Linked DNA regions of Homo sapiens. The protein of the gene in region 2 binds, or shares a complex with, the protein of the main gene of each other region. Each region holds a gene or a part of one and is shown on either strand. Other genes may lie near its edges. The genes, in order: LRP6 and SOST.

What was found.
Region 1: the proteins of SOST (region 2) and LRP6 are in contact, whole or in part, in a crystal structure (PDB 6L6R), measured with the Homo sapiens proteins. Residues at the interface, in NP_079513.1 of Homo sapiens: Leu115, Pro116, Asn117, Ala118, Ile119, Gly120, Arg121, Arg169, Thr171, Arg172, His174, Asn175, Gln176, Ser177; in NP_001401174.1 of Homo sapiens: Arg28, Asp52, Val70, Ser71, Glu73, Leu95, Ser96, Asp98, Glu115, Arg141, Trp157, Trp183, Asn185, Ala201, His226, Phe228, Trp242, Met269, Arg336, His361, Asp379, His404, Asp406, Thr422, Glu447, Arg449, Trp465, Trp491, Asn493, His534.

What each region holds. Positions count from the first base shown.
Region 1 is NC_000012.12:12,256,357-12,264,705, forward strand, and holds part of LRP6 (low-density lipoprotein receptor-related protein 6 isoform b precursor), read right to left. Parts: intron 1-8,349. UniProt on the Homo sapiens protein: Component of the Wnt-Fzd-LRP5-LRP6 complex that triggers beta-catenin signaling through inducing aggregation of receptor-ligand complexes into ribosome-sized signalosomes.
Region 2 is NC_000017.11:43,755,320-43,764,455, reverse strand, and holds the start of SOST (sclerostin precursor), read left to right. Parts: upstream 1-5,664; 5' UTR 5,665-5,714; coding exon 5,715-5,934; intron 5,935-8,692; coding exon 8,693-9,114; 3' UTR 9,115-9,136. UniProt on the Homo sapiens protein: Negative regulator of bone growth that acts through inhibition of Wnt signaling and bone formation.

The DNA.
Region 1 (8,349 bases), on a different chromosome or scaffold from region 2:
AGGCCAGCCTGAGCAACATGGTGAAACCCCATCTCTATAAAAAATACAAAAACTTAGTTGGAAGGATCACCGGAGCCTGGGAAGGTCCAGGCTGCAGTGAGCAATGATCGCGCCACTGCACTCCAGCCTGGGTGACAGAGACACCAGCTCAAAACAAACAAACAAACATAGGCCAGAGTGGTGGCTCATGCCTGTAATCCCAGCACTTTGGGAGCCAAGGCAGGCAGATCACTTGAGGTCAGGAGGTCAAGACCAGCCTGACCAACATAGCCAAACCCCCTCTCTACTAAAAATACAAAAATTAGCCAGCATGGTGGCACACGCCTGTAGTCCCAGCTACTCAGGAGGCTGAGGCATGAGAATCACTTGAACCCAGGAGGCAGAGGTTGCAGTGAGCAGAGATTGTGCCACTGCACTCCTCCTTGGGTGATGAAGCAAGACTCTGTTTCAAAAAAAACAGATTTTTTTAACGTATCAAAAGCTGAGATTCAGAAATAATTTCTCAAGGTAAAGACTCCAATAATCAAACCCACACTCATTTGAAAGTATTTAATATATCCATACAATGGATTACTCAGCCATTAAAAGGAATGAAGTACTGACACATGCAACATGAATGAACCCTGAAAATGCTAAGTGATAGAAGCTAGACACAAAAGGCCACATATTTTATTCCATTTATATGAAATATTCAGAGTAAGCAAATCCATAGAGACAGAAAGTAAATTCATGGTTACCAGAGGCTGAGGGAAGGGAGAAATGGGAAATGTATGGGTTTTGAGGGAGCAGGGGATGATAAGCGTTCTGGAATGAGATAGTGGTGATGTTTTACAACCCTGTGAGTATACTAAAAGCCACCGAACTAGACATTGTAAAATGGAGATTTTTACTGTATGTGAATTATAGCTCCAAAAAACTTGGTTTAAAAAAGTACTTGACAGGCCGGGTGCGGTGGCTCACGCCTGTAATCCCAGCACTTTGGGAGGCCGAGGCGGGTGGATCACGAGGTCAGGAGATCAGACCATCCTGGCTAACACGGTAAAACCCCGTCTCTACTAAAAAAATACAAAAAAAATTAGCTGGGCGTGGTGGTGGGCGCCTGTAGTCCCAGCTACTTGGGAAGCTGAGGCGGGAGAATGGCATGAATCTGGGAGGCGGAGCTTGCAGTGAGCCGAGATCACGCCACTGCACTCCAGCCTGGGCGACAGAGCAAGACTCCCTCTCAAGGAAAAAAAAAAAAAAAAGTACTTGATAGAAAGGGCTTAATGAAAAAAAAAAAAGAAAGAAAGAAAAAAGTACTTGAGGCCAGGCATGGTGGCTCATGCCTGTAATCGCAAGCACTTTGGGAAACCAAGGCAGGAGGATCACTTGAGCCCAGGAATTCGAGACCAGTCTGAGCAACATAGTAAGACCCTGTCTCTACAAAAAAAAAAAAAAAAAAAAAAAAAAAAAAATTAAAAATGAGCCGGGCGTGGTAGCACGTGCCTATAGTCCCAGCTACTCTGGAAGCTGAGGCAGGAGGATCGCCTGAGACCAGGAGGTCCAGGCTGCAGTGAGCCATGATAGCATCACACCACACTCCAGCCTAGGAAACACAGTGAGACCCTGTCTCAAAAAAAAAAAAAAAACTAATTATATCAGTGCAATAGTTATATCCTAAAACCAGAAAACACGTTACATAGTCCACACCTTGAATTCAATCTCAGATATGAATATGCTGATTTTTTAGTAGTCTATTTAACATATCTAATCTATGCTAAGAAATCTTTATTTATTTATTTTGAAAGACAGGGTTTTGTCTGTGATATGGAGTGCAGTGGCATGATCATGGCTCACTGTAGCCTTGAGTTCCTGGGCTCAAGTGATCCTCCTGCCTCAGCCTTCTAAGCAGCTGAAACTACAGGCATGTGCCATCGTGACCAGATAATTTTTTAATTTTTTATAGATGTTTCCCAGGCTGGTCTTGAACTCCTGACCTCAAGTGATCCTCTCGCCTTGGCCTCCTAAAGAGATGGGATTACAGGTGTGAGCCACCATGACCCAGACTAAGAAATCTTTGTAATCGTTACAAATTTATAATTTAACTATAGCTAATGAACGATTGAGTCAAAACACAAAATGGCATTCCAAATAAATGTCATAAAAATTCACATCTTTTTATATTACTTTAAATGTAAAATTTACAGTGCTCAATATGTGCAAACCTCTGGTACATGGTGCATATAAAGGGGAAAAAGGTCTACTCTTCAAAAACTTTTCATCAAAGAGCTATTTCTGCATTAGCATAAATCTAGAAGGTTACAAATAAAGACAATATAATGTGTAGCTAAGAATTCATGGTAATGAAGTTCACTCGTCACCTTTCTCAGACTTGCAAAACATAGTATCTTTAAACTGGATATATGGATATACAGTACTTAAATTATACGTACCAATAAAGCTAATCATTAGTGAGGAAGACTCCTATCCCTTGCAGTCCTTTACTTGTAGTTTGGGTCTTGTAGTGATAAAACAATGACTAAGACCATTAGAGAAAATAGCCTCCTGGTTAAACATACATAATTTGATAAAGGTAGGTTTCCAATATTTGGGTGACTATTTTCTTGGGAAAAAAAAAATGACAGCTGTGTGCAGCAGGCTCACGCCTGTAAGCCCAGCACTTTGGAAGGCCAAAGCGGGTGGACCACCTGAGGTCAGGAGTTCGAGACCAGCCTGGCCAACATGGTGAAACCCCATCTCTACTAAAAACACAAAAATTAGGTAGGCATGATAGTGGGCGCCTACTAATCCCAGCTACTTGGGAGGCTGAGACAGGAGAATCACTTGAACCCAGGAGGCAGATGTCACAGTGAGCCAAGATCATGGCACGGCACTCCAGCCTGGGTGACAGAGCGAGACTCCATCTCAAAAAAAAAAAAAAAAAAAGACTACTGCTGGTCATGTTATTTTTATTGAGAGTCTCATCAATAACTTTAGGCCTGGTGTTAATAACTTACATAACTTAATGTAGTTTTCTGCCTAAAAATATAATTTCATTTTGCATCCCCAATCTCCTCCTGAAATTAGTTCCAAAATATTTAAGCACTTATACAAGGTCCTTCCAAGCAAGATATTACAGAAACTACAAGTTATGATACCGCTAAAAGGATCACAGCATCAAAGTATCAATAATTTTCACCGAAGAGTCCAAGCACATTTTAAAAGTTTCTAGCCTCACACCCGAACAGCTTGAACCTTTAGTGAGAATACTCACTGCCGCAAACACGAACAGCTTGAGAAACAAAAGCATATGTTAATAATACCAAATAACCTTGTTTCCTTGCATTTATGTACTGACAAATTGTATTTTAAAATAAATAATTTTAAGAGCAAACAGCCTGTTCTTAGATTGCCTAGTCTGTATATTTGACTAAATTTCAAAGTTACTCATATAAAACAGTGTTTTATTCACTGAAGTGAGGCTTACTTTATAGAAGATAAACACCCTTATCCGAAGTGAAAACATGCAATGCAGAAACTCAGTATAGCATTCAGCCATCCTGCAGAAAGAAATCCACCAACTGAATAATTGTTGTAAACAAATAATGCAATTTCTCAATTAGATGTCTTGATAAAATTATTTTGCCCATGCTTAACTCTTTAATAAGTATCACAATCATTTGAACTGTCTGTTCTGTAGCTTATTTATAATAATCATCACCTAAAATAGTTATGGCTGCAATCCTTTAGAAATAAATTTAGGCCAGGCGCGGTGGTTCACGCCTGTAATCCCAGCACTTTGGGAGGCCGAGGCGGCTGGATCACCAGGTCAGGAGATGGAGACCAACCTGGCTAACATGGTGAAACCCCGTCTCCACTAAAATACAAAAAAAATTAGCCGGGCGTGTTGGCGGGGCCTGCAGTCCCAGCTACTCGGGAGGCTGAGGCAGGAGAATGGCGTGAACCCGGGGGGCGGAGCTTGCAGTGAGCCGAGATTACGCCACTGCACTCCAGCCTGGGCGACTGAGCAAGACTCCGTCTCAAAAAAAAAAAAAAGAAAAAAAATTTAGTGTCATTCCGTTTTATATCAAACAAAACAGAAATTTCCATAAGTAAAAGTATTTTATGGAGCTTTTATTCCAGTTGCAGAAGAATCAAAAAAAATTCCAAAACCACTGGCCTAAAACTATCAACTGCCAAAAACAGTGCCCAGGACATAGCGACACTTAAAATGTTTTACCAGTCTTTCCAGAGTATAATGTTTCTTTTAATTCGGCCATCTTAATAATAGCAACCATTTATTCAATGTCTACTATTGACTGTGCGTTCTACTACCCCTTTACAAACATTTCGTCAGTTCTCACAGAAGTCTTGCAAGTTATATCCCCACCTAACAGGAAAGGAAATAACTTGTCCAAAGGAACACAAAGCGGCAGAAGAGTTTAACTTGGCCTGTTTAACAACAAGCCATGTCTTTCTGCTATAGTACCTTCCATATAATCTTCTCTAAATGTAAACTTTCAATAGAATTTCTACGATGAAAATAATCTTTCTCAGAGTAGTTACCCATGGCCTAAATAGCACTAAACATTATTTTTCCAGTATGCGCAAAATATTTAAACAAAAAATATACGTTCTCATAAAATATTTTCCATTAATATATCCCTTCCCAGAATCTCCTTTGATATTTAAAACAGTCCTTTCTGACAGCCAAAGCATATATAAGGACACAGTAGTTCAGTACAGCAAATGGAAAAACTTCCAATTAAAGCAAAGAAAAAAATCTCTTAAAAATTGAATCATGGCCGGGCGCGGTGGCTCACGCCTGTAATCCCAACAGTTTGGGAGGCCGAGGCGGGCGGATCACGAGATCAGGAGATCGAGACCATCCTGGCTAACACGGTGAAACCCCATCTCTACTAAAAATACAAAAAATTAATCGGGCGTGGTGGCGGGCGCCTATAGGCTGAGGCAGGAGAATGGCGTGAACCCGGGAGGCGGAGCTTGTAGTGAGCTGAGATCACGCCGCTGCACTCCAGCCTGGGCGACAGAGCAAGACTCCGTCTCAAAAAAAAAAAAAAAAATTGAACCACAGGAAATCACTATTAGCCCTTCTGATAATAACAAGCTAAAACCTTAAAATTTAATAACCAGACAAATTATTGTTTAGCCAAATGAGCAAACCTGAAGCCAGGTAAGTAAACAGGAATGACAGTATCAAATTAACTATATGAAACTGTCATCAAATATCAATGTAATACTTGACAAGTTTGGAAAATAATAGGTTAAACAAAGTTAAAACCGGTCTCTTTACCTCAGGACTTTTCAGAACCCTTAATGTGTTAACATGAATTCTAATCTCCAAATAAAGTGTACAGAGATCACTCAAGGTTACACAGCAAATTTAGAACCATAACTTAATTCTCCTGATTGCCACTCCAAAATTTGTTCTACTTCCCCAAGACTTTATAACACCTGATTTTAAAGGAAGAAAGGATCGCTTCTACAGAAATACAAGATGCAAAACATTAGTGGTTTGTTCCAACAATATTTACCAGCCCACCAAAACAAAAAAAAGTAACGAAGAATTTTTATATAACAAGCCTCCTCAAAAAAAGCTAAAAAGGCCAGGCGCGGTGGCTCACGCCTGTAATCCCAACACTTTGGGAGGCAGAGGTGGGTGGATCACCTGAGGTCAGGAGTTCGAGACCAGCCTGACCAATATGGTGAAACCCCATCTCTACTAAAAATACAAAAATTAGGCCGGGCACAGTGGCTCACACCTGTAATCCCAGCACTTTGGGAGGTCAAGGCAGGTGGATAACTTGAGGTCAGGAGTTCAAGATCATCCTGACCAATATGGTGAAAGCCCGTCTCTACTAAAAATATAAAAATTATCCGGGCATGGTGGTGTGAGCCTGTGGTCCCAGCTACTCAGGAGGCTGAAACAGGAGAATTGCTTGAACCCAGGAGGGAGAGGTTGCAGTGAGCTGAGATCATGCCACTGCACTCCAGCCTGGGCGACAGGGTGAGATACCGTCTCAAAAACCAAAAAAATACAAAAATACAAAAATAAGTCAGGCATGGTGGCAGGCACCTGTAGTCTCAGCTACTCAGGAGGCTGAGACAGGAGAATCGCTTGAACCAAGGAGGCAGAGATTGCAGTGAGCCAAGATCGCGGCACTGCACTTCAGCCTGAGCGACAGAGCGAGACTCCGTCTCAAAAAAAAAAAAAAAAGCAAGCTAAGAAATAGTATTTCACAGATTACACACACCGATGGTATTCCAAAACCTATATTCTTATCAAAAATACTTCCAGCAGAAGATCAGATATTATTTTTTCTCATCAGTATCCGAATGGAACTAAGAAAATGGTAAGGATGGCAACCTAAACTGTGAGGCCCGTTAGATTAGGAAACACATTGTTTTACTCACCATCAGTACCAGAGGCTGACATATAGGAGGTATTCCATACATATTTGCTAAAAGAATGAATAATAAATCCCTGCCCCATCTTTAATTAACCTACCTTTATTAAATTACAGTATCTCTGAATCTGAGTTTCCCCACTTACAAATAAACTGGTGAGGCTCAAACGACCAAGATCCCTTTCACTTTTAAGAATGTGTGAATCTGGGCCAGGCGTGGTGGCTCACACCTGTAATCCCAGCACTTTGGGAGGCCGAGATGGGCAGATCACCTGAGGTCGGGAGTTCGAGACCAGCCTGACCAACAAGGAGAAACCCCATCTCTACTAAAAATACAAAAAAAAAAAAAAAATTAGCTGGGCATGGTGGTGCATGCCTGTAATTCCAGCTACTCAGGAGGTTGAGGTAGGAGTATCGCTTGAACCCGGGAGGCGGAGGTTGCAGTGAGCCGAGATCATGCCATTGCACTCTAGCCTGAGCAACAAGAGCGAAACTCTGTCTTTAAAAAAAAAAAAAGAATGTGTGAATCTGGCCGGGCGTGGTGGCTCACGCCTGTAATTCCAGGACTTTGGGAGGCCGAGGTGGGCGGATCACGAGGTCAGGAGATGGAGACCATCCTGGCTAACACAGTGAAACCCCGTCTCTACTAAAAAATACAAAAAAATGAGTCCCAGCTACTCAGGAGGCTGAGGCAGGAGAAAGGCGTGAACCCGGCAGGCAGAGCTTGCAGTGAGCGGAGATCACACCAATGCACTCCAGCCTGGGCAACAGAGCAAGAATCCGTCTCAAAAAAAAAAAAAAGAATGTGTGAATCTGCACCTGTAATCCCAGAACTCCGAGAGGCGGAGGTGGGAGGATCACTTGAGCCCAGGAGTTTAAGACCATCCTGGGCAACATAGCAAAACTCTGGCTCTATAAAAATTAGCCAAGTGTTATGGCACACAACTGTGGTCCCAGCTACTTGGGAGGCTGAGGTGGGAAGATCACATGAACACAGGAGGTCCAGGCTGCAGTGAGCAGCGATCATGCCACTGCACTCCAGCCTAGGCAACAGAGCAAGACCCTACCTCCAAAAAAAAAATAGGAATTCGTGAACCTGGCCAAGCATGGTGGCTCACACCTGTAACCTGTAATCCCAGCACTTTGAGAGGATCACTTGAGGCCAGGAGTTGGAGACCAGCCTGGGCAACATATCAAGACACCCCCACACCAACCCCATATCTACAAAAAATTGGGGGCATAGTGGCACGTGCCTATAGTTCAGAGCTTTGGGAGGATGAAGCAGGAGGATCACTTAAGCCCAAGACTTTGAGACTGCAATGAGCTGTGATTACACCACTGCACCCCAGACTGAGTGATGAAGCAAGACTTTGTCTCTTTAAAAAAAAAAAAATTGTGAACGTTATACAAATTAAATCTCAAATCATGAAAGCATTTGAGGATATGTCCCTGAACAAGCAAAAATTATAGCAAAAAGTAACATTAACAAGGTACTCCATATTATTTCATTTAAAACACCCAATAACCCTGCAAACTAGTCAGGTATCATTATCCACACTACCAGTAAAGAAACTGAGACCTAGAGAAGCGGACTAGACCAGAACCACAAAGTTATGAAGTTGTGACACTTGGGCTTTAAATCCAAGATTTTAGTATTGAAATTCCCAAATCTTTCCTTTATACCTTGTCATGTGATGATAGAGATAGGGACACAGCACTAACAGTATTCCCTGGCTTTCTGCTACTAATTCAACAGGGCTACAGGACAGAAGGTCTCCCAGACTCTCACATACCCCATCACACCCAGCCAATGTTAAAGCCCCAATTCTTTGTGGGGGAAAAAAATGACCTAAATGCAACAAATCAATCAGATTTTTCTCCTTGGAGTCCAAGGTTGACTAAATATCTTTACTATAACAGAGGATGACATTCTCAAAGAATG
Region 2 (9,136 bases):
ACCCCTTCTCTACTAAAAATACAAAAATTAGCCAGGTGTGGTGGTGCTCACCTGTAATCCCACCTACTCGGGAGGCTGAGCCAGGAGAATCACTTGAACCCAGGAGGCGGAGGTTGCAGTGAGCTGAGATCACGGCACTGCACCCCAGCCTGGGAGACAGAGTAAGACTCCGTCTTAAGACAAAACAAAACAAAAAACCTGTACAAAATGTTTATACCACCTCTATTAATAATTGCCAGAGCTTGAAAGCAACCAAGATGTCCTTCAGTAGATGACAGTAGGTGACTAGATAAACCGTGATACATCAAGACGATGGAGTATTACTCAGTGCTAAAAAAAAAAAATAAGCTGTTCATGCCATGAAAAGACATGGAGGAACCCCAAATGAATATTACTAACTGAAAGAAGCCAATCTGAAAAGACTATGTATGGGTATATTCCAACTCTATATGACATCCTGGAAAAGGCAAAAATAAAGGTACAGTAAAAAGATCAGTGGTTGCCAGGGGTTGGGGAAAGTCGGGGAGGGATGAATAGGCAGAGCAGATAGTTTTTTTGGACAATGAAAATACTGCCCATCTGTATGATACTATAATGGTAGATGTATGTCATTATACATTTGTCCAAAGCCATAGGATGTACAACACTAGTGCTGTGATGTAAACCATGGACTTCAGGTGATAATGATGTGTCATGTAGGCTCATCAATCATAGCAAATGCACCACTCTGGTGGCGGGATGTTGATAACGGGGGCAGCTGTACATGTGTGGGCACAGGACATAAATGAGAAATCTCTGTACCATCCACTCAGTTTTGCTGTGAACCTAAAAGTGCTCCAGAAAAAAAATAAAGTTTTTTTTAGAAAAAAGCATCTGAACCTTTTTTTCAGTGGCATTGATCACCTTCCATCTGGTAGTGGAGTTGTTTGGATGCGGAAATTATTTCTTCCATGGTATGCGAGCTCCTGGAGAGGGAGTGCGTGTCCCCCTTGCTTTATTAAACGTTTGGCGAGTGAACATCGGAAGAAGCAACTCGACAGAAACAAAAGCTGGTAAATAATCACATGGAAAAGCAGCTTTTCTGGAAATTAAGTTTCAACTGTTAAATTCAATGTTTAAAAAAATCGGCTGGGTGCGGTGGCTCCCGCCTGCAATCCCAGCACTTTATGGGATTGTGGGAACACCTGATGTCAGGAGTTCAAGACCAGCCTGGCCGACATGGCGAAACCCCATCTCTACAAAACAAATAAAAAAAATGCAAAAATTAGCTGGGTGTGGTGGCGGGAGTCTGTAGTCCTAGCTACTCGGGAGGCTGAGGCAGGAGAACTGCTTGAACCCAGGAGGTGGAGGTTATATGAGCCAAGATCACACCACTGCACTCCCGCCTGGGTGACAGAGCGAGACTCTGTCTCAAAAAAAAAAAAAAAAAAAAAAAAAAAAATCAACATCCCAAACCCAGTGTTGACAGTCTTATTTATGGGTTGAACTGCATTCCTCCCAAATGCATATATTGAAGTCCTAAGTCACAGTACCTGAGAATGTGACCTTATTTGGAAATAGGGCTATTACAGATGTAACTCGTTAAGATGAGGTCATTAGGCTGGGCCTAATCTAATATGCCTGACCTCCTTAGAAAAAAGGGAAAATTCGAACACAGAGAGAACACCATGTGAAGATGAAGGCAGGGATTGGGGGTGACACTTCTGCAAGCCAGTGAATGCCACAGCTTGTCAGCAGCCAGCAGAAGGCAGGTAAAAGGCCTTCCTCGCTGTCCTCGAAGGAACCAACTCTGCCAATGTCTTGAACTTGCACTCCTAACCTCCAGCTCTGTGAGACGACTTCTGTTGTTTATGCCACCCAATTTGTGGTACTTAGTTACGGCAGCCTCATCAAAGTACCACCTATGGGAGCCTCTATTTTGCAGGTGAGGGCGGGGACTGGGCTTTTTCTGGAAAACAGCCCTGCAATACCCTCATCAGACCACCAAACTCTTCACACTCCCTCAGACACAGCATTCACTTCCAGAAATAACTCTAAAGTTTTGTTTTGTTTTTTTAAACTTTGTGGAATACTACTCAGCCAAAAAAAAAAAAAAGAAAAGAAAAAGGAACATGTTACTGATATGTACAACTTGGATAATGGAAATAATGCTGAGTGAAAAAAAAATCCCCAAAGGCTACATACTAATTGATTCCATTTATATAACCTTTTTTTTTTTTTTTGAGACAGTCTCACTCTGTCACCCAGGCTGGAGCACAGTGGCGCGATCTCAGCTCACTGCAACTTCCGCCTCCTGAGTTCAAGCGATTCTCTTGCCTTAGCTTCCCAAGTAGCTGGGATTACAGGTGCGTGCCACCATGCCCAGCTAATTTTTGTATTTTTAGTAGAGACAGGGTTTCGCCATGTTGGCCAGGCTGGTCTCGAACTCCTGACCTCAAGTGATCTGCCTGCCTTGGCTTCCCAAAGTGCTGGGATTACATGAGTGAGCCACCGCACCTGGCCGCATTTATGTAACAATTTTGAAGTGAAAAAAAAAAATGACAGAAATGGAGATTAGATGAGTAGTTGCCAGGGGTTAGTTGTGGGAGGGAGGGAAAAGGAGGGAAGGAGGTGGGCAACAGGAGAAAGACTTGTGGTCACAGAGCTGTGCTTTATCTTGACTGTGGTGGATCCCCAAATTTACCCGTGACAAGATTGCATAGAACTAAGTATACACACACGTGAATGCGTGTGCACGCACACAGTAGAGGTTAAACCACGGGAGATGTGGGTAAGATTGGTAAATTGTGTCAATATCAATATCCTAGTTGTGATATTGTCCTATAGTTTCGCAAGGTGTTATTGTTGTGGGAAACTGGATAAAGGATACACGGAGTCTGCATTTTCTTTTTTTTATTTTTATTTTTTGAGACGGGGTCTCACTCTGTCATCCAGGCTGGAGTGCAGTGGCCCAAGTATGGCTCACTGCAGCCTCGACCTCAACCTCAAGTGAACCTCCCACCTCAGCCTCCCAAGTAGCTAAGACCACAGGCGTGCGACCCCATGCCCAGCTAATTTTTAAATTTTTTGTAGAGACTAGGCCTCACCATGTTGCCCAGGCTTTTATTTCTTATAAGTATATTTAAATTTATAATTATATCCACATTTTAAAATTTTAATTTAAAAAATTACTCTGAGGCCGGGCATTGTGGCTCATGCCTCTAATCCCCAGCACCTTGGGAGGCCGAGTTGGGCAGATCACCCGAGGTCAGAAGTTCGAGACCAGCCTGAGTAACATGGAGAAACCCCCGTCTCTACTAAAAATACAAAATTGGCCGGGCGTGGTGGTGCATTCCTGTAATCCCAGCTACTCGGGAGGCTGAGGCAGGAGAATTGCTTGAACCCAGGAGGTGGAGGTTGCAGTGAGCCAAGATTGTGCCACTGCACTGCAGCCTGGGCCACAGAGAGAATCTGCCAAAAAAAGAAAAAAAAAAAAATTTCAGCCGTACAAGGATGTTCATAGCAACCCTGCTGGAAATAGGAAAAAAAATTGGAAATAACCTAAACTACTCACAATAGGAATCAGCTAAAACCCTGGGGGTTTAATTCCAGGGAGTACTGTGAACAATGACAAGTTTGTGGACTGAGTAAAAATAAACAGCTGTCAATGACTTAACATTAAATGAAACAGCAGAAGATGTCACAGCAGGTTCTCGCTGAGCCATTCAGAGGGGTGTGGATCATTTAGAGGTTCAAGTCCACTGGATTCTTCTTTTTCCTTTTAATATTACTTCACTTCCAAATAAGGAAAGGAAAGGAAAGGAAATCACGTCCAGTCCTGAGACTTGCCATCCTGCAGTCACCCCTCCTTTTGTCTCCAGCAGGTGGCAGACGCGTTCCAGGGATGAATCCCACTGCCTCTGTTTAATGCAGACGGTCCAGCCGCTCCCAACAGCAGGTGGGGCTATAAGCATCCATCCTACCTGCTCAAGGAACCCAGGCATCAGAACTGCTCTCTCCCAAGTCCATTGCAAGAAGGCAGTCGTCTGGTCATGAGAGGGTTAACAGTCCACATTCCAGAGCAAGGGAAAAGGAGGCTGGAGGGTCATAGACAAGGGGAGGTGGCGCGGAGGGCCAGCTTCTCACAACACTACCGGCTCTGCTGGGAGAGATAGATCACCCCCAACAATGGCCACAGCTGTTTTCATCTGCCCTGAAGGAAACTGACTTAGGAAGCAGGTATCAGAGAGGGCCCTTCCTGAGGGGGCTTCTGTCTGGCTTGTAAAACTGTCAGAGCAGCTGCATTCATGTGTCGGATGATGGATGATGGAAAGGAGGACAGTCGGCTGCAGATGGACACAGCGACTTGCAAGTTGAGGCAGGTGGCAAAGGACTTGCAGAGGCTCTGCAGGTGGGGCATGCTGATTCATTGCCCAGTTAAAATACCAGAGGATCTGGGCAGCCTCTTCACAGGAGCTGCTTGTCCTCAAACAATCTGTCTTCAATGAAAGATTCCTCTGGCCTTCCTTTCTCTTCTTGCACCTCAGGTGTGAATCCTTCTCCCCCACGCCTCTACCTGCCCCCCCGCCCCCCGCCCCGGCCCTGTGTGGCTCATTATATGCAGGGCCAAGGCAGCATTTTCTCTTAGCTTCTTTGTGACCACTTGGTCCTGGGATGGCTTCATGGAACACATCCTGTGGTGTGCACCAATGAAGCTTTCCATACAGGACTCAAAACTGTTTTTGAAAAATGTAACCAGCTGGAAGACAAGAAAATAAAATGTCAGCACTAAAAACGCTGGCTGTGGCTTTTGCTAAGGAAAGGAATTTGGTGTTGTCTTCTCACACACACAGACTGGTTGGGGAAATGACTGTCTTCAGCACATCACCCTGCGAGCCACAGTGAGTGCCCTGGCTCAGAAGTGCCTGTCACAGTGCACAGGATCCCTGAGGAGCATGAGCTGGGATTTCCTCTGTGCTGTCCACCACAGGAGCCTGAGTGACCAGCGCATCCTCGATTTGTAACCAGAATCCTGCCCTCTCTCCCAAGCGGGCACCCTTGCTCTGACCCTCTAGTTCTCTCTCTTGCCTTCCAGAGAATACCAAGAGAGGCTTTCTTGGTTAGGACAATGAATGCTGAGACTTGTGGAGTTGGGACCAATGGGATTTCTTTAAAAGCATCTTTTTGCCTCTGGCTGGGTCTATGGGGGTCAAACAGAAACGCCTTGGGCCATTTGTTGGTGGGGTGACAAATGAACTTGGCCTGAGAAATGGAATAGGCCGGGCTCAGCCCCGCGAAGCACTCAGAACTGCACATTTTCTTTGTTGAGCGGGTCCACAGTTTGTTTTGAGAATGCCCGAGGGCCCAGGGAGACAGACAATTAAAAGCCGGAGCTCATTTTGATATCTGAAAACCACAGCCGCCAGCACGTGGGAGGTGCCGGAGAGCAGGCTTGGGCCTTGCCTCACACGCCCCCTCTCTCTGGGTCACCTGGGAGTGCCAGCAGCAATTTGGAAGTTTGCTGAGCTAGAGGAGAAGTCTTTGGGGAGGGTTTGCTCTGAGCACACCCCTTTCCCTCCCTCCGGGGCTGAGGGAAACATGGGACCAGCCCTGCCCCAGCCTGTCCTCATTGGCTGGCATGAAGCAGAGAGGGGCTTTAAAAAGGCGACCGTGTCTCGGCTGGAGACCAGAGCCTGTGCTACTGGAAGGTGGCGTGCCCTCCTCTGGCTGGTACCATGCAGCTCCCACTGGCCCTGTGTCTCGTCTGCCTGCTGGTACACACAGCCTTCCGTGTAGTGGAGGGCCAGGGGTGGCAGGCGTTCAAGAATGATGCCACGGAAATCATCCCCGAGCTCGGAGAGTACCCCGAGCCTCCACCGGAGCTGGAGAACAACAAGACCATGAACCGGGCGGAGAACGGAGGGCGGCCTCCCCACCACCCCTTTGAGACCAAAGGTATGGGGTGGAGGAGAGAATTCTTAGTAAAAGATCCTGGGGAGGTTTTAGAAACTTCTCTTTGGGAGGCTTGGAAGACTGGGGTAGACCCAGTGAAGATTGCTGGCCTCTGCCAGCACTGGTCGAGGAACAGTCTTGCCTGGAGGTGGGGGAAGAATGGCTCGCTGGTGCAGCCTTCAAATTCAGGTGCAGAGGCATGAGGCAACAGACGCTGGTGAGAGCCCAGGGCAGGGAGGACGCTGGGGTGGTGAGGGTATGGCATCAGGGCATCAGAACAGGCTCAGGGGCTCAGAAAAGAAAAGGTTTCAAAGAATCTCCTCCTGGGAATATAGGAGCCACGTCCAGCTGCTGGTACCACTGGGAAGGGAACAAGGTAAGGGAGCCTCCCATCCACAGAACAGCACCTGTGGGGCACCGGACACTCTATGCTGGTGGTGGCTGTCCCCACCACACAGACCCACATCATGGAATCCCCAGGAGGTGAACCCCCAGCTCGAAGGGGAAGAAACAGGTTCCAGGCACTCAGTAACTTGGTAGTGAGAAGAGCTGAGGTGTGAACCTGGTTTGATCCAACTGCAAGATAGCCCTGGTGTGTGGGGGGGTGTGGGGGACAGATCTCCACAAAGCAGTGGGGAGGAAGGCCAGAGAGGCACCCCTGCAGTGTGCATTGCCCACGGCCTGCCCAGGGAGCTGGCACTTGAAGGAATGGGAGTTTTCGGCACAGTTTTAGCCCCTGACATGGGTGCAGCTGAGTCCAGGCCCTGGAGGGGAGAGCAGCATCCTCTGTGCAGGAGTAGGGACATCTGTCCTCAGCAGCCACCCCAGTCCCAACCTTGCCTCATTCCAGGGGAGGGAGAAGGAAGAGGAACCCTGGGTTCCTGGTCAGGCCTGCACAGAGAAGCCCAGGTGACAGTGTGCATCTGGCTCTATAATTGGCAGGAATCCTGAGGCCATGGGGGCGTCTGAAATGACACTTCAGACTAAGAGCTTCCCTGTCCTCTGGCCATTATCCAGGTGGCAGAGAAGTCCACTGCCCAGGCTCCTGGACCCCAGCCCTCCCCGCCTCACAACCTGTTGGGACTATGGGGTGCTAAAAAGGGCAACTGCATGGGAGGCCAGCCAGGACCCTCCGTCTTCAAAATGGAGGACAAGGGCGCCTCCCCCCACAGCTCCCCTTCTAGGCAAGGTCAGCTGGGCTCCAGCGACTGCCTGAAGGGCTGTAAGGAACCCAAACACAAAATGTCCACCTTGCTGGACTCCCACGAGAGGCCACAGCCCCTGAGGAAGCCACATGCTCAAAACAAAGTCATGATCTGCAGAGGAAGTGCCTGGCCTAGGGGCGCTATTCTCGAAAAGCCGCAAAATGCCCCCTTCCCTGGGCAAATGCCCCCCTGACCACACACACATTCCAGCCCTGCAGAGGTGAGGATGCAAACCAGCCCACAGACCAGAAAGCAGCCCCAGACGATGGCAGTGGCCACATCTCCCCTGCTGTGCTTGCTCTTCAGAGTGGGGGTGGGGGGTGGCCTTCTCTGTCCCCTCTCTGGTTTGGTCTTAAGACTATTTTTCATTCTTTCTTGTCACATTGGAACTATCCCCATGAAACCTTTGGGGGTGGACTGGTACTCACACGACGACCAGCTATTTAAAAAGCTCCCACCCATCTAAGTCCACCATAGGAGACATGGTCAAGGTGTGTGCAGGGGATCAGGCCAGGCCTCGGAGCCCAATCTCTGCCTGCCCAGGGAGTATCACCATGAGGCGCCCATTCAGATAACACAGAACAAGAAATGTGCCCAGCAGAGAGCCAGGTCAATGTTTGTGGCAGCTGAACCTGTAGGTTTTGGGTCAGAGCTCAGGGCCCCTATGGTAGGAAAGTAACGACAGTAAAAAGCAGCCCTCAGCTCCATCCCCCAGCCCAGCCTCCCATGGATGCTCGAACGCAGAGCCTCCACTCTTGCCGGAGCCAAAAGGTGCTGGGACCCCAGGGAAGTGGAGTCCGGAGATGCAGCCCAGCCTTTTGGGCAAGTTCTTTTCTCTGGCTGGGCCTCAGTATTCTCATTGATAATGAGGGGGTTGGACACACTGCCTTTGATTCCTTTCAAGTCTAATGAATTCCTGTCCTGATCACCTCCCCTTCAGTCCCTCGCCTCCACAGCAGCTGCCCTGATTTATTACCTTCAATTAACCTCTACTCCTTTCTCCATCCCCTGTCCACCCCTCCCAAGTGGCTGGAAAAGGAATTTGGGAGAAGCCAGAGCCAGGCAGAAGGTGTGCTGAGTACTTACCCTGCCCAGGCCAGGGACCCTGCGGCACAAGTGTGGCTTAAATCATAAGAAGACCCCAGAAGAGAAATGATAATAATAATACATAACAGCCGACGCTTTCAGCTATATGTGCCAAATGGTATTTTCTGCATTGCGTGTGTAATGGATTAACTCGCAATGCTTGGGGCGGCCCATTTTGCAGACAGGAAGAAGAGAGAGGTTAAGGAACTTGCCCAAGATGACACCTGCAGTGAGCGATGGAGCCCTGGTGTTTGAACCCCAGCAGTCATTTGGCTCCGAGGGGACAGGGTGCGCAGGAGAGCTTTCCACCAGCTCTAGAGCATCTGGGACCTTCCTGCAATAGATGTTCAGGGGCAAAAGCCTCTGGAGACAGGCTTGGCAAAAGCAGGGCTGGGGTGGAGAGAGACGGGCCGGTCCAGGGCAGGGGTGGCCAGGCGGGCGGCCACCCTCACGCGCGCCTCTCTCCACAGACGTGTCCGAGTACAGCTGCCGCGAGCTGCACTTCACCCGCTACGTGACCGATGGGCCGTGCCGCAGCGCCAAGCCGGTCACCGAGCTGGTGTGCTCCGGCCAGTGCGGCCCGGCGCGCCTGCTGCCCAACGCCATCGGCCGCGGCAAGTGGTGGCGACCTAGTGGGCCCGACTTCCGCTGCATCCCCGACCGCTACCGCGCGCAGCGCGTGCAGCTGCTGTGTCCCGGTGGTGAGGCGCCGCGCGCGCGCAAGGTGCGCCTGGTGGCCTCGTGCAAGTGCAAGCGCCTCACCCGCTTCCACAACCAGTCGGAGCTCAAGGACTTCGGGACCGAGGCCGCTCGGCCGCAGAAGGGCCGGAAGCCGCGGCCCCGCGCCCGGAGCGCCAAAGCCAACCAGGCCGAGCTGGAGAACGCCTACTAGAGCCCGCCCGCGCCCCTCCCCA